Regions from separate parts of the Homo sapiens genome. Here region 2 is linked to region 1. A link means that fine-mapping ties the variant in region 1 to the expression of a gene that starts in the linked region. Tissue or cell type: whole blood. Region 1 holds a variant in brackets; the other region holds the start of a gene. All regions are shown on one strand. Distances are between the middles of the regions.

Region 1 (8,110 bases):
TAAATTCTAGTGGGGAAGATGGAACAACCAACAGTCAAAATTTTAGCATATTGTTACTGATTATCATTACAGAGAAAAGGGGGAATAGGGAGCAGAGGGTGTGTTGTCATTTTAGAAAAGATTAACAGGGAAGCCTACCCACCCCGGCCTGAGATGGTGGTCTTTGAGTCAAGGCCCTAAGTTGCTAAGGAAGGATTACATGTCATCTGTGGGGGGCGACCTCCTCAGGCTTTTGGGGGTGGGAGGTAGCAAATGCCAATGCCATAAGGCAGAGGTGAGCCTGCTGTTTCTGAAGAAGAGCAAGGAAGCCCCGGATTGAACATGAGGAGAGTGCTGGGAGATTGGGCAGGAGGGTGGCGTAGGGAGGAGGGTCTTATAGTCTTCTGTGTGGACTTCGACTCCTGCTGTAAATGGAATAGGGAGCCTTTGGAGAATTGGGACCCAAGAGTGCTGGGATGTTACTTTTGAGAAGACTCACGTTGGCTGCTGAGTTCAGAGTACACTGTGAGGGAGCACGTCCAGAAGAAGGAGAATCAGGAGGTTATGTTCCTGTGTAATCAAGGGAGATTGGGGGATATTGATTTTAACGAGGTTTGGAGGGATGGAGGTGGTTTGAAGAGGTGAGATTCTCGATCTCTTTTGAAGATAGAGTCAGTAGGATTTGATCATGGATTCCACGTAAGGTATGAGGAAGGAAGAGGTGGTGAAGGGGATTCCAAGGTTTTGTGCCTGGGCAATTGAAAAGATGGAAGTGCTATTTGCTAGAATGGGGAAGACTGCATTATGAGAGGTTTGAATGGAGAAGATCAGGAGTTGGTTTTGGATATGTAAAATCATGATTCCCATTAGGTGTCCAAAATGAAGACAGAACCAGGAGTTAGTTGGATATTAAGAGTCTGGAATTCAGATGGGACTAGGCTGAAGATGTGTAAATGTGGGAGTTGTGAGTCTGGATGAAGTCACTAGAAAAGTGAATGTGGACAAGAAGCAAAGACAAGACTCAGAGGACTGAGTCTAAGGGCACTTAGAGGGTGGGGAGATAGGGAAGAATCAGTGTTAGAGATCAGGGATAAAGTGAGCTAATGAAGTAGGAGGAAAACCAAGGGCATATGGCGTCTTAGAATCCACCTGCTGAGTGTTTCAAGGAGGGAGGATTAATCAGAGGGGCTGTCAAAGAAGATGAGGACTGAAATTTGACTGAACAGGAGGCTGGTGCAAAAGTTGGATCAGCACAACATGTCAGCTTGAATTCCTTGCTGAGGTATGAATTGTGAAGCATGGAAATGATGATGATGATAATACTAATTATTATTAAGAATTCAAAAGGAACAAGATCTTCTTTTTTTTTTTCAAGAATGCCAAATATATTCCCTACCATTAAAATTGGATATAGCAGCCAAAAAAGAAAGAAAAATGAATTAAAATTACTGAAAGACAATTTTACATGTCCTGTCAGATAGTTTAATTTAAATATAAGCTGGTTGATCCAGGTGCAGCTGCCCAAACTTGGAATAACATGGGGGAAAAGCCTAGTGAGAAAGCAAAGCCAATTGCAGGAGAGAGATACAGAGTGATGAGAGAGAGAGGAAGAGAGAAAACAAGAGAGAGAGAGAGAGAGAGAGAGAGAAAGAGAGAGAGGAGAAAGGGGTAGTTGAAGTAGGTTGCATAGGAAAAACCAGGTGCCTGGTAAACTTTATTGAGTCCCAGAAATGTAAGGTGCCCCCCACCAAAAAAAAGTGTTAGCTGCTCTTAACACTAACTTTAGCCTGAATAGACTTGAAAATGTATACATTTTTCATAGATGAATACTTTCCCTGATACTTAAACAATATAGCACGATCTTCAGAGCAGAGATGTGAATTTGTATCCCTGGGTCTAAAGTATTGAACATTTATAAAATGGTGTGGCTATAAGAGTACCAGAATTGTGCTGGAGTTTCAGTTTCTTCTTTAGGCAGTTGATTTGATTAAAACAAAAGAAAACAAAAATAAACAACCAACTCACACTTCTGGTCCTTTCTCTGGAAATTATGAATAAAAATATCAATAAAACTTTAAAATAGAATTTTAGCAGTCTCCCTATTTGAGAAGGAGAATCTCACAATTTTCACTGGTAGGCAATTCATGTGGGATTGTAATGCATGAGTGTGGGAAATAAATAAAATGATTGCTTTTTTTTTTTTCGTAATGGCCTAAAATGATAGCTTCTTGATTTAATAAACCTTTCCCCTACTCCCTACCACCACCCCTCTGCAACTTACCTACAATACACATATTCTAGTGCTTATCAAATTATAAAAGCTGGGCTCATGAAATAACAGGAGGATTTTTGTTTTCTGATATCAGTCAAAAATTGTTTGGAAGACAGGCAGAACAAGTTAAAGTGAAAGCCTAATATAGTGAAGGGAAAGATTTGTGTGCCAGCCACAGATGGACTAAGTTCGTTCTCACATAAATATTATCCTTTTTTTCTTGCCAGGACTGAACTGCAGTCATTGTCTTAATTAACTCAGGGAGTTTTCAGTTACAGCTTCAAAATCTCAGTCTTCTGGAAATTGTCATCTGGCTTTGTGTTGTCCCTAAGTAGCTGTGTGACCTGGAGGGAGGCACTTAACCAATTCAGGCCTCAGTATTGGGAGTCAAGGGTATGGAGGCCCAGTTTAGCTTTCTTCTAGCCCTGATGTTCTGTGAATCTGTTATTCAAGTTTATGGACAAGTTCCCACAGAGAAGGTTAGTAGAGTTTTTTAAAATTATTATTATTAAGCAATGGGTATTTTACTAAACAGTACTCAACTATTTTTTGCAAAGTGTTAATTTGTAGAACGTTTTGAAACTCCGCATAGAAAATGAATGCACAGGTCAAGGCTAACATAGCCTTTCAGCCATATTGTCTGGAATTGTTTTTTTTTTAAAACATATAATAAAAATTAAAGTTGAAGAAGAAATGCCAAAAATATATTTTTGATGGAAAATAACAACTTACACTGATTAGCATTTATTTCAATGAAATATGAATCTTTAAAACATAGGATTTAAACATCTTTCAATGGACATATACATTATTGTCTCAGATTCATAAAAATGTCTTGTAAGCTATCATTTCTCCTCTATTTACACTGTCTTTTGTGGGGGAAATAAAAAGACTAAACAGTGTTTAGATTATCTCTACACATTTTACATTTCTCCCAAAGGCTGCTGTGTAATGGTTGGCATCTGAGAGAATAAACAGGAAATTAGTGAGGCTGAGGTTCTCCTTCATCTTTTGCCAGGGCTGGACTCCTTGCTTCATTTATTTTCATAGGACACCAGAAATCTGAGAACAGTATTTAAGCTGACTACGTTTCTTTTATAGCTGGCCTTTTATAGATGGTCTACATGTGGCAATCTACAGATTGCCAGATCTTTCTCCTTTTCTCCAACTTAGTGTGTTGGCATTTGAAGTACCAAATGTCCTCTTCACCAATGAATAGTTTAGAGGAAGATGAACAGTGTAGCCCTTTAGGCATCGTAAAATACTGTATTTTTTTTCATAATCATGAAGGTAATATGTTTGTTATAGAAAATTTGGAAAATTAATATAATCCAAAATCCTACAACCCACAAATCACCACTTTTGATATTGTACTGTTGTTCTTTTTGGTCTTTCATCAATTTTTTTGACTACTTGTATTCATTAAGCAGGTATTCAATTTATTATTCAAACTGTTTCCAAGGTGAGCTGCTAAGAATGTTAATAGGTGTTCTGGGTCACTGGGGACATTGGGAAACTTTCCATGTCATATACGTTTGGGAAAATGCCAGATTGAACGATGTTAGACTTAGATTTGTCACAGACACCCCCCTCAGGGATGAGCTTCCTGAAAGGGCTCTATGACTCTTCTCTACTTGGGAAGGTACATTGGGCAAAGCCTGGAAGTTATTGGACAGAGAACTGGCTTTGGCCCTGCACCCACTAATGTTGTAATGTGGTGTTCTTCAGATGGCAGTGTGGATCTTATTTGGTTTTTGTTTGTTTTACGAAATTGAGATCTCATGCTTTTGTAACCTCCTTTTCCTACTTAATATATTATGAATGTTTTCTACTTTAAATCTGTTTTTCAAAGAGTTGCTTTCTCTCATTGTTATTTTTGAAAATATTCCATTTATGAAAGTTCCATTTATGAAGCTGGGGCCTAGCCCAGGTGACAGATCATTTCAGTCTGTGGGGATACTCTTGAAAGGTTCTGTCTGGGTTATAAAATGTTTATACTCATTTGAAATGTTTCCATCTTCCACCCACCCATTCTGACAAACCTTTAATTTTGGACAACTGCTGTTGAGGCTGTGGATTCACAGTTCCCAAAGCCACTGCTAATTTGTTTGCTTTGGAAAGACCTGACAAAAATAGACTTCTTTTAACACAAATGGATAATTTTCTCCCATTGATGGGCAGTTCATTTAAGAATATTTTATTTATTGTATTATAAAAATAGCCTCTTTGAGACGAATGGCCTGCTCCAAGTAACTCTCATAAAACATAGGGATTTTCTTCCATACAGAAATAATTACTTTGATTTAAAATGGGATATTGCCTTCTCAAAGTATTTTTTCCACTATGAAGTATATAGAAGTATGTATTTAATGTGTCTTAAAGTCCACTAGTGGAAGTATTACTATCACCTTTTTTCAAGGCTCATTACCTAAAATTTTTCTAAAATTAAAAGCAAAGACAAATATGCCTTACATTTAGACCAAATTAAAAAAATGGATCTTTATTTTGGATAGTCCCTTTACCTGTGCTTTACTTTCATTATCACAAAAATATCCTTAACTCTTAGCATTTCATAACAACTGTGACCAATTTTTATTATGTAGTTGGAAGTGTTAAGAATCTGAAGAGAAGGCCTTTTACAGTGATTATCTTTGTGAACAGTGTTTAGATACGTTTTGGAGACCTGTTGAAACAAATACC[C/G]TACTCTTTTTTTTTTTTTTTTTGAGATAGAGTCTTGCTCTGTTGCCCAGGCCGCAGTACAGTGGATGATCTCAGCTCACTGCAACCTCTGCCTCCTGGGTTCAAGTGGTTCTCCTGCCTCAGCCTCCCAAGTAGCTGGGATTACAGGCACGGGCCACCATGCCTGGCTAATTTTTGTATTTTTGTAGAGATGGGGTTTCACCATGTTGGCCAGGCAGGTCTCAAACTCCTGACCTCAAGTGATCTGCCCACTTCGACCTCCCAAAGTGCTGGGATTACAGGTATGAGCCACTGTGCCTGGCCCAAATACCCTACTCTTTATTGATTGTCTCACACTGATTGATAATGGTCAGTTCCTCAGGCATACCATATGTCTTTAAAATATTATAAAAAACTTTGTAAAGTCTTTTGTTTTATAAACAGCTTATCTGGGCTAGGCCTGGAGCATATTCATAGACTGTCCCTTTATGCAATTCCTGGGCAAGTGCATGGCTTTGAAAAAGACTGGAGCTGAAAAGCATAATGTGTACTTTTGGCCTGGGGATTCTTTATAGAGAGTATGCAGATTTCCCCAAGGAAAACTGATTTTGCATGCAAAAGCTGTCTCTATAATTATAACAATTTCCTCTTGCCCTTTTTAAAAAAAAATTCAGCTTCTCAAATTGGTACGTATAAAATTTTACCCTTTCCACAAAAGCAGGCCTTGCTGAAGGAACTGACTGCTGAAAAATCTCATGCCAAGTCCCTAAAGCAGCTAAAGGGAGACATTATAAGTTTTGAAATGCAGCAGTCTAGGAGGTGAAGGAATGGCGGTCCTGTGAGCCTTGACATCAATTTATGTGAGTGTGTGTGCAAGGTGCCATCCCACAGCTTATACTTAGAAGAAAAATGGACTCTTTAAAGTAAAGCTTGTTAATTGAGTTTTTCTTTTTCTGAGGGTTGTGCTTACATGGTTTAAATTGTAATAAAAATTAAAATGCTTGAAATGTTTTAGAGTCGGAGCCCTTTGCTGCTTTAGCTCATGGGCACCTCCAAGAATGCTTCCTCAGATAGCAGCACAAAACACTGGCAGTTCTCCAAGAGAACATTCTTTGAGAACCTCACTGTGATTGGGAAAGGGAACTTCACATTCTGATTGTGCAGAAGTGCCCGCGGGATGTGTAGTCTACATTCTAAGGTTGCTTGTTGTCTTCCATGGAAAGTGTTATTTTATTATATCTTTCAGATATGTTATAGGTGGGAAAATCCGAATAACTGCTTTTATCTTGGTCAGGAAATACAGGGAATTGGTGTACTGGGGAAGATCACATATTACGAGACACACTTTAATTACCTTTGTGGAGTATTACTTTTCTAATAACCAAACTTGTTAAAATGCTAAATTTTATTTGTGTTTTAATAACCCAGATTGCTAAATTGCTAAATAATCTAATATACTAAATTGCTAAAATAATGCCAAACATAATTAAACTTTCATTTGGTTCTGAACAATTTTCAGTGTCCCCAAGTCATTATCAATATTGCATTAATGTAGAAATCTAGTCATTTGGCGTCCCTATTAATAGAATGCCAAACAAATTGAGTCAGACATATATACCTAGTGTTGTGTTGCATGCAGCAGGGTAGAAAGGGAGTGCCTAATCAAGCTCACAATGTGATTTTTGCTCAAGTTGTGATGTCTGGCCAGGCGCAGTGGCTCACGCCTGTAATCCCAGCACTTTGGGAGGCTGAGGGGGGCGGATCACTTGAGATCAGAAGTTTGAGACCAACCTGGCCAACATGGTGAAACCCTGTCTCTATTAAAAATACAAAAATTAGCTGGGTGTGGTGGTGCACGCCTGTAATCCCAGCTACTCGGGAGGCTGATGCAGGAGAATTGCTTGAACCCGGGAGGCAGAGGTTGTAGTGAGCTGAGATCATGCCATTGCATTCTAGCCTGGGGAACAGAGAGAGACTTTGTCTTAAAAACCTAGAGGGACTTACTCCTGTTGGAGGCACACATTTCTAACGAGATAATTTGGGATTGACATAGGACTGTGCTTAATAAGGTGTTCAGAGGGGTGGTGCTGATGCTAGGAACGGAGAAGACAAAGTAAGATGATGGCAATGTTGAGTTAAGCTGGGCAGTGACCTGATTTGTTTATCATTTGGAGGAGAAGTCAGAAAAAAAAAGAAACAGCCTAGGTAGAGGATTAGAGATGAGTATGAATATTGAGTGTGTCAGGGAGGGTAATGATAGTCTGAGCTCACTGCATTAAGATGAAGTGTTAAACACTAATAATGTTGAAGCTTATTCCAAACCCCTAGCTTTTCCCCTTTTTCCTTCTAATTACTACTCAGCAAGGTAATGAGTGATGGCTCAAATGTGGGATTAATCAGGGGAGGAAGACTATCAAGTTCTGTTCTGTTTGTGCATCCAGGGGAGAAGCTGCTTAGAGCAGTAGCCAGTTGTTGTCAGCACTCTTCCCCCAACCCCAAATTAAAGGCAGCTTTCTGGAATCATATTATGGCACCTGGGGAGGATTAACATGGCTTCCTAAGATGCCTGAGTAACGACATTTCTTCCTGTCAAAGCACACTGCTGTAAAAGAACACACTTCCTGATGATGGCCTTGACCGACCTCACGTTTAAGGGCCTGTGCACAGTTCTGTTACCTGGAGTAGGTGATCTGTGACACCGGCCTTTGGTTGCTGTGTTTGGCCATGAATCCACCCTGATGACTATGAACTTCACAGAGTAATTGGCCAGGATATCCCTTCCCTTACTGTCATACTTGCTGAGGTGTTAGTTCTGCAAATAGTATCCTTTGTGGATCTTTGTGTTTGTTTGAGTAGGTGAAGGACTTTATTTTATATTCTTTTTCTCTAGTTACTTCCTTATTTTAATAAGTAAACCTTATTCTAAGGGTTAGTTTCTATGCTGAGAACAGTGGGTCTCTAGACTACTTAAAATTTTCCATAAATCTTACGTTATTCATTTTGTAAATCCTGAATAAATTGAAACGAGAACAGTGCTGATGGTCCTCATAGAAACTGAGGTGGAATGTGTACACATTTTAAAATTTATTTAAATGAGGTGCTTCTAGGTATAACACATATATAACCCTCCCTATATATTATTTAATAATAAAAATACCTCTACACTATAGTGCTTTATGA
Region 2 (8,110 bases), 400 kb after region 1:
AGGCCGAGGCAGGCGGATCACGAGGTCAGGAGTTCGAGACCAGCCTGGCCAAAATAGTGAAACCCTGTCTCTACTAAAAATACAAAAAATTAGCCGGGCATGGTGGCAAATGCCTGTAGTTCCAGCTACTCAGGAGGCTGAGGCAGGAGAATAGCTTGAATCCAGGAGGCAGATGTTGCAGTGAGCGAAGATTGCACCGCTGCACTCTAGCCTGGGCGACAGAGTGAGACTCTCAAAAAAAAACAAAACAAAACAAAACAAAAAAAAAACAGAGAGAGAGAGAGAGTAGTAACCAAGGGAACAATGGACTCCTGTGCCATCTCAGAGATTTTGAGGGTACTGCATTATCACAGAATTCAGGTAGCAAAATATGTTAAATGAGACACAGCTAGTCTAACCTTAGGCCTATTGTGACAGATGTCATTTCTTGGAGAACAGACTCATTAAAGATTTTTTAAAATCCTCAAATGAGTTTTAATTCAACCTTACAGAAAGGTGCCCTGCCCAGAAGTTAACAAGGTTTTCCTCCCTCCCGAGATAGCAGAGTGAGTTGTGTATCACTGACCAAAAATGTAAGACTGACCAGAACAGTTAACTAATCACGGATTCAAAAGACAAAAATGATTTATTTGCTACTGAAATTTTGAGGAATGATTACCTGGCCCCTCACCATTTACTTATTTAGGGTTTGCTATAAGGATGCAGTTCTCTATATTGCCCCATGCTGAAGGCAATTCTTCTAAATGAACTCATAAATGGTATTTTTTTCAGGACTTAGTGTGAACATAGCCAATAAAAAGGCCGTTATTCTGGTGGTTTGTTTCCTCCACTGGTTACCGTTATTGCAGAAATAACCATTGTTTCATTAGAGTAGATGCAGGAGACACCAAAGAAGCACTAGGATGAGGAAAATTACACCAAGGGCATGCAGACTGAGTGCATTGGAGCCTAAACTCAATTTTCTGATTCTTTCCAAATATTCTAGGGCTTAGCAATGTATGTGCGAAATATTCTTGTGCATACATTGCTCATGCGCACACTTATTTTTGTACTCTTTGCTCTGGATCTAAACCCTTGTGGGATAGAAACTGAAAAATAATTCTTGTGCATACATTTATTTTTCAGTTTCTGTCCCACAAGAGTTTAGATCCTAGAAAGGGTTGCGAAGGTCTTTGAAGGCAATGACTAAATGAATTAATTGTTCTATGATAAGCTGAACACAAGAAAAGTTTTGGTGAGTAGAAAGTCTGGCTTAACAGCTGCATGCATCTTGTTTGTTTAAATTATTTCTGCTTCTGTTATTCGGGTGTGCGTCCGTTGTCTGTGTGTGGGTTGCAGAGGGATGGCTTGGTGGCTGTGGGAACAACAGAGCAAGGAGTACATTTTTACACTTTACTGTAAAGTGAACTGAAACCTCAATAAACCAAATTTCAGCTGCAACAAAGCCCAGCCTTTTCCTTTTGAAGCTATAAATACGCTTTTCTTATTAGTATTGTTCACTAATTTTCATAGTTTTGTTTCTTGATTCTACAAATACAAGTCAATTGCTTGCACAACCAAGTATGAAAAGATGCCCCTAACAACTTAAAAAGTTTAATTTTATTTAGAATAAATTTTGCATAGGCCATTCTTTTGCATATGCCATATGTGGGTAAATTATCAAATACGGAAATGAAATAGGGGTTCTATAGTACATAAGGCATTGTTGATTTACGGCCTAATTTGCTTTTTATTGCAAATGGATAAATATGGATGGATGAAGAGTTACATCTTTGCATTGATTCCCTATTCAATAGATATTTCTTCCATCCGTATCCTTCCTTCCACCCTACATCAGTTTGTCAACTTCTTTCAAGACTCACCTTCTCCAAGAGACCTTTTTTCATCAATTTCAACCACTCTCCCACCTGGGATGCCTGTCTTACTTTTTTTTCCCCCTGAACATTTATGCAGACACTGTGCTAGGCTAACTGGAATCTTTATGTAAATTCTTCTCATCCAAATTGAAAGTTCTATGCAAGGGCCTCTTCTTGCCCTTTTATAAAACAGCAACCACTCAATGGCATGAGATTCATAAAGGCTAATTCAGTAAGTATCCATATGAATTGAAAAACAGCCTTTGAAGGACCTAGAAGATCTAGAGGAGATCCCAAATCCAGTGTGTTTAGGTCACACTGCACCCTAACAGTTTCTACTGACCACCAGCAGCAATAATAAAAATTGACACAGTTACCACCCACACAGGTGTACATATTTATGTCAATTTCTCCTACCATCTTTTAGACTTGAGAAATGAAAAGTAGAGCAAATTCTGGGGAACATTGTTAATATATTAAAATGCAATTTAATGGCAAATTTTGCTCCTTGATCACTTCTTTGCTTATTTTAGAGAACCAAAGAGTTTTTTTCCAGAATGATTAGAAAGATATTTAATTAATGTAGGTGAAAGTTGTAGGTATAATGACCTAACTCCTATTGCAATGTATCACAGTGGATAAGATGATAAATTAATGGGCATTTGTTAGCCATGTTTAAGATTAAATATTAAAAAAGTCATTAAACTGATTGTGCTTTGAAAATAATCCCCCCAGAAAAAAAGAGTTAAAATTGCTTTCTTTCTTCTTTCAACCCATTTGAGTACTCTAGGGTACACTCTCCAGTGTCAACAAAGAGATCATTTATATCAGGTATAATTTTCAAAGGAACAACCATCTCATTTGTAAATCAACTACTACATTTTAAGATCAATGACCAATGCTACTACTCACCTAATCTTTTATTATTAAGGCAGATAATCATGAATTAATTCAGTTGATCTTTTAACAACTTATATAGTGAAGATATCTGCAATAACATACTGCAAGAGAAATTGTCAAAATCTTTTATAGGTGTCTCTCCTACTTGTGTAATGATAAATATCTTTTGGTTTTCAAAGCATCAAGCATACTGGAAGTAGTAAGTATTCGGTTAATGTTTATGGATCTATTTGTACTTTGTTTATTTATACTCATTGGCCCATTTGGTTTAACTAGCCATCCCCTGAGTTATTTTCCCAATTTTTCAGATGAGAACAAATAAAATCTTCAGAAGGTCACAAAAATAATAAGTAGTGAATCCTGGACTGAAATCTACTCATTTCTGTCCTCATAAAATACTGGAGAGAGAGAGAGAGAGAGAGAATAAATACTTTATTACATGTCTCATTGTTTTCCAGTTTTACAGTACTACAGGAAAATAAGTGTTTAATAATAATTGCTAACATGAAAAAATGTAACACATACAAATGTTATCTCTTCCACTTTCAACTGATGAGAACTGACGTTTTATCAATCTTCTGTATAAAATCATTTCTGTTAAGTTCTGTAAAATTTGCATCAATTCTTCTATATATAATCATCTTTGTAAAGTTCTTGAGAAATGTTTGGATGAAATACTGAACTACAAACATAAAAGTCAAGATGTCAAAATATAATGTCAATTTTAATATTACTTTATACTTTGAATTGCTAGTGATCTAATGATTGATATAGGAATATGTTTGAAAGCCAAAAACATTATATAGATACTTTGTGGCAGATATGTCAGAATGTGATTATACTTAAAACAGCATTCTATAAATTTGAAGAATGTGAATTAATGATAGAGATTTCAGATTTCAGATTATTATTTGATATTGAATATAGATTTTTATGGAAGTCAAAATATGGAGTAAAAATATTATATAAGGAGAAATGAAGATAATCTCACAGAGTTAAAGCATGTGATTTTTGTATTTTAATTCTAACTGACCATGTGACATTTGGGAAGGTCATTTAATTTATTTGAGCCTCAGTTTTGGGGTATGTAAAACCACAGTAACTCATATCTTTCCTTGCCTACCCTCTAAGATTGGGGAGAATCAAATTAGATAATGCAGGTGAAATACTTTGCAATTTTCCCTTTAATATGACATTGTTTTATAACATTATATTACTGATGCAACATTTATTTGCATTATGAAATATCTTCTAAGGAATAAAATATTTGGACATCACTACAATTGATGAGGACTGCATGTGTATTTTTGAAAGCTGTATTCTGATTTACAGAGCAAAAATAAAAAATAAGCAAGCTACCAAATATGTAAATACAGGAATTAGCCCAGTAGTATTTGTTCTTCTGTTCCACTACAGGCTTTAGAGTAATATCAGTGTGTGTTTTTCTTACATAACTATGTGACATTACTTAGGGCATAATTCTAAAATTTCTGTCCTAGGAGACACTAGATAACTCTCAAAAACTTCTGATTTGCTTGCATCCCTTTTTGGCAGAGTGGTCACAGTATAATGCGGGAGGGTAGGTGACCCCAGAGTTCAGAGTCCTCATGCACCCGGGAGCAAAATTCACAGGAAAATAAGCCCACATGGAGCTACTGCATTGTCTGATGGCCTCGTTCGAGGAGGCGTCAATTTAACTTTAAACCCATGAGCTCATTGAGAGCAGGGGAGAGAAGGGGATGTCTCCAAATTCAGGAAACTGTTGCCATAGCATTTTCCCTTCTCTATTCCTGCATAGCCCTCCTCCCCCGAATCAGCAACAATTTTTGCTCCACCGTTTTCTTTCGGGAACCAGATGCGTTTTCAGAAGACAGTACTCCAGTGATAAGGTATCTACACCACTTAATAACTGTACCTGGTAAGGAGATTTAATAAGGCTGAGGGTGGTATTAAGTTTCTCAGAACAGACTCATCTTTGCGGATGCAGTTGCAGAACAGGAAACAGACCCAGGGAGAAGTTTAGTCCCCCCAGATCTCATTGGCCCTCCGCACAAGCCAAGCCACAGCCACTCCTGCCACACAATCGGATTGCTTTCAGCACTCGCAGCCGTGGACCGCCGTGCGGTCCTTTCCTCCGCAGTGAGCCGATTTGCTCTGCCAGCAGCTGTCGGTGCCGCGCTCGACACCGAGTCCTAGCTAGGCGCTCACAGAATACGCGCTCCCTCCCTCCCCCTTCTCTGTCCCCCGCCTCTCGCTCACCCCGGCCCACTCCAGCGGCGACTTTGAGGGATTCCCTCTCTGGCGGCCTCTGCAGCAGCACAGCCGGCCTCATTCGGGGCACTGCGAGTATGGATCTCCAAGGAAGAGGGGTCCCCAGCATCGACAGACTTCGAGTTCTCCTGATGTTGTTCCGTGAGTAGCGATTTGGCGACTGGGAGAGAGGACGGGCACTCTTTGCAGAGAACAGAGCCGGCAAAGTAAAGTCAATTAGCTTGAGATAAAAAATATGGCCCTTAATGTTTTGCGGTGTTTTTTCTTTTTTTCTTTTAGGGGAGGAGGGAGGGCCTTCCTCGCCGGTGGCAGGGAATTCCCCTGAGAGCCATACACCTCTGTGGCATATTCCAGACAGAGCCTAGACAGGCCAGCTTCGTGAGGTCAGAGCATTGGCAAGAAATATTTACTTTAAAATCCCAAGATGTAGAAAACAGCCAGCTATATTACAAACAAAGTCAGGATTTTTAATTTTTTTAACTGTATTTTCATTATAAATTAACAGCGAAGGAATGAGGCTTGTTAGACCCGGGTTAGAGAAACGGCTCGTAGAGCGCACAGCTGCTGGCAGAGAACTTTGTCACTCCAAAGCCTGCAGAGCACTGTCTCCCCACCCTAGCGCCCGAGACGCGTGGGCTGAGCCCTGAACTGATGGAATTGTTTTGTTTGTTCCGCAGATACAATGGCTCAAATCATGGCAGAACAAGAAGTGGAAAATCTCTCAGGCCTTTCCACTAACCCTGAAAAAGATATATTTGTGGTGCGGGAAAATGGGACGACGTGTCTCATGGCAGAGTTTGCAGCCAAATTTATTGTACCTTATGATGTGTGGGCCAGCAACTACGTAGATGTAAGGAATCTTTCCCCCCCCTCAGCTTGCTCCTAGGGCTCCAGGGCGAAGGGCACCCTTCCTCAAGGCTCTTCGAAGACCTGGGTTGCCCGCCTTCTTTCCCACACCCCGGCAGGCTGCTCCCGAATGCTGCATGGGGATTCCAGCTTGTAATGCCTTCTGTTCCCCTGCCTGCTTTGAAAGTAAACCCCCTTCTCTCCGCTTCCCTATCGGGGCTGCACGTAGAGCATCTAACCGCATGTTCCCGGAACCTGGGATGCGCGCGCGCAAAGGAGCGCCCAAGCGTGCAACCCAGAGTTTGGACGCGCCGCCCTTTACAGCCCCCGCCCCGGGGCCGGGCGAGCTGAGGGGGCGCGGGGCGTCTGTGTTCCCAGCTGATCACAGAACAGGCCGATATCGCATTGACCCGGGGAGCTGAGGTGAAGGGCCGCTGTGGCCACAGCCAGTCGGAGCTGCAAGTGTTCTGGGTGGATCGCGCATATGCACTCAAAATGCTCTTTGTAAAGGTAACTCCGAGCCCAGCGGGCAGAGGGGCCGCAGGCTCCGCGTGGGTGTGGGAAGTGGCGGCCCCTAGGTTTAAGAACCCAGACGCTGCGGGGACGATTGAAGCGCACCTCCCCGGCTCAACAGGAAAGCCACAACATGTCCAAGGGACCTGAGGCGACTTGGAGGCTGAGCAAAGTGCAGTTTGTCTACGACTCCTCGGAGAAAACCCACTTCAAAGACGCAGTCAGTGGTGAGTGGAGGCTGGCATGGCTGGGGAGGGAGCCTGGGAACTCGCAGAACAGGCTTGGAGAGAGAATTCCTCAAGGTTTTGGAAACCGTCCCACGCTTTGAGGTCCCAGGCCAAGTCTTCCCTCGGCTTGCTCTTTAGGGCGGAAGAGGCGGGAGCGCCCATGAGTCTTCTGGGTCTCAGGCCTTGTAGATCCGCCAGGAACCGCAGGCGTGGGGACCCAAACGTCACCCGTGGCCTGATCCTAGATAAGAAGTCCCTTGAAGGCCTGTCGTTCCCTGGTGCTTCAAAACGACCTCTTATGATTTGGCCTTTGAAGGACCACGGAGAAGGGCAAAGCTGCATTTTAATTTTCTTCCGCATCCTGGTTTTGTTTCTTATGCGCTAAAACTGCAAGGGGGCAGTGCGACTTTCCTTTTCAGTCAGGATGTGATGGCCTTCAGTGTCTTTTTGCGCATGGCAGCATGGCTCGCACGGGATATTCAGTCATCGACTGCAGCTACCTGACAGTGGATTCTGCACCATGTATAATTTACTAGCGTTTCTGGCCCATCCCTCCGACAACTCAGCCAGATCCTCCTCGGCAAAACGAGCGTTCATCCCCCAAATAACAATATTCCTATCTGCAGACACCGTCAAAGACCACATTTAAATTTATTTTATTCTTTATAAGTTGTCTATTTCACTCATAATGAGGCCCTTCATCACCCAGGCACCTGAGTTGGGAAAGGATTTTTATTGAATACATAAAAATACATGTGTCATCTTTCCCTTTTCACCCCTTTTTGTTATCACAGTAAAAGGAGGATTTTTTCTTTTTCATCAAAGTTTAGATGCAAGATGTCCCCCAGTTAAATTAGACCAAAAAGGAAAAAGGAAAAATCAAACTTAGGTCAGAAAAAGAGCAATGGGAGGCAGACCTTCAGAGGGGATGTATGTGTGTAAGGACAAGCATCCAGAGGACCAGCAATCTGTCCGGCTTTGTTGAGGAAGATGTTTTATTCTTTGCCAGGCCCGTGTGAAATGTGGAAAACCAAGTCACTGTTCCTTCTGTGTCTTTGGAATCTCCATTATTAGGGATTTTTTTTTTCTTTTTTGAAGTGCGGTCTCACTCTGTCCACCAGGGTGGAGGGCAGTGGCACCACCATAGATCACCACAGCCTGGAGTAAGCTACTGGGCTCAAGAGATTCTCCCACCCCAGTTTCCCCAGTAGCTGGGACTACAGGCATGTGTCACCATGCCAGACTAATTTTGTAAATGTATGTGTGTGTGTGTGTATTTGTAGAGACAGAGTCTCACTATGTTGCTCAGGCTGGTCTAGAAATCTTGGGCTCAAACGATCCTCCCACCTTGACCTCTGAAAGTTTTGGGATTACAGGCAGGATCCACCATGCCCAGCCTAGGTTTTATACAGTAACAAGGGTTGGGTTTTTAAGTATCATTCTCCTCTTCAAAAAAGGAGTTCCAAATTAATATTGAAAGAGCCCTGGCTCTCAAGA

The links. PIP is the estimated chance that this variant, and not a neighbour inherited with it, causes the effect.
Region 2: LAMP5 starts here. The variant in region 1 is fine-mapped to the expression of LAMP5 in whole blood (INTERVAL, PIP 0.98).

Annotation. Positions count from the first base shown.
Region 1 is chr20:9,107,300-9,115,409 of GRCh38, forward strand. All of the region lies in intron 2 of PLCB4 (phospholipase C beta 4), which reads left to right. Among named protein-coding and RNA genes, the nearest start is that of PLCB4, 42 kb to the left of the region's middle. The variant C/G (reference allele first, on the strand shown) is at 4,952.
Region 2 is chr20:9,509,749-9,517,858 of GRCh38, forward strand. It overlaps LAMP5 (lysosomal associated membrane protein family member 5), which reads left to right and starts at 4,842. Exons shown (of 6, transcript NM_012261.4): 1 at 4,842-5,168; 2 at 5,705-5,877; 3 at 6,252-6,383; 4 at 6,508-6,613. The coding sequence starts at 5,105. LAMP5-AS1 (LAMP5 antisense RNA 1) reads right to left here and starts at 5,250. Exons shown (of 5, transcript NR_109957.1): 1 at 5,016-5,250. RefSeq lists enhancers at 1,409-1,458, 5,777-6,361.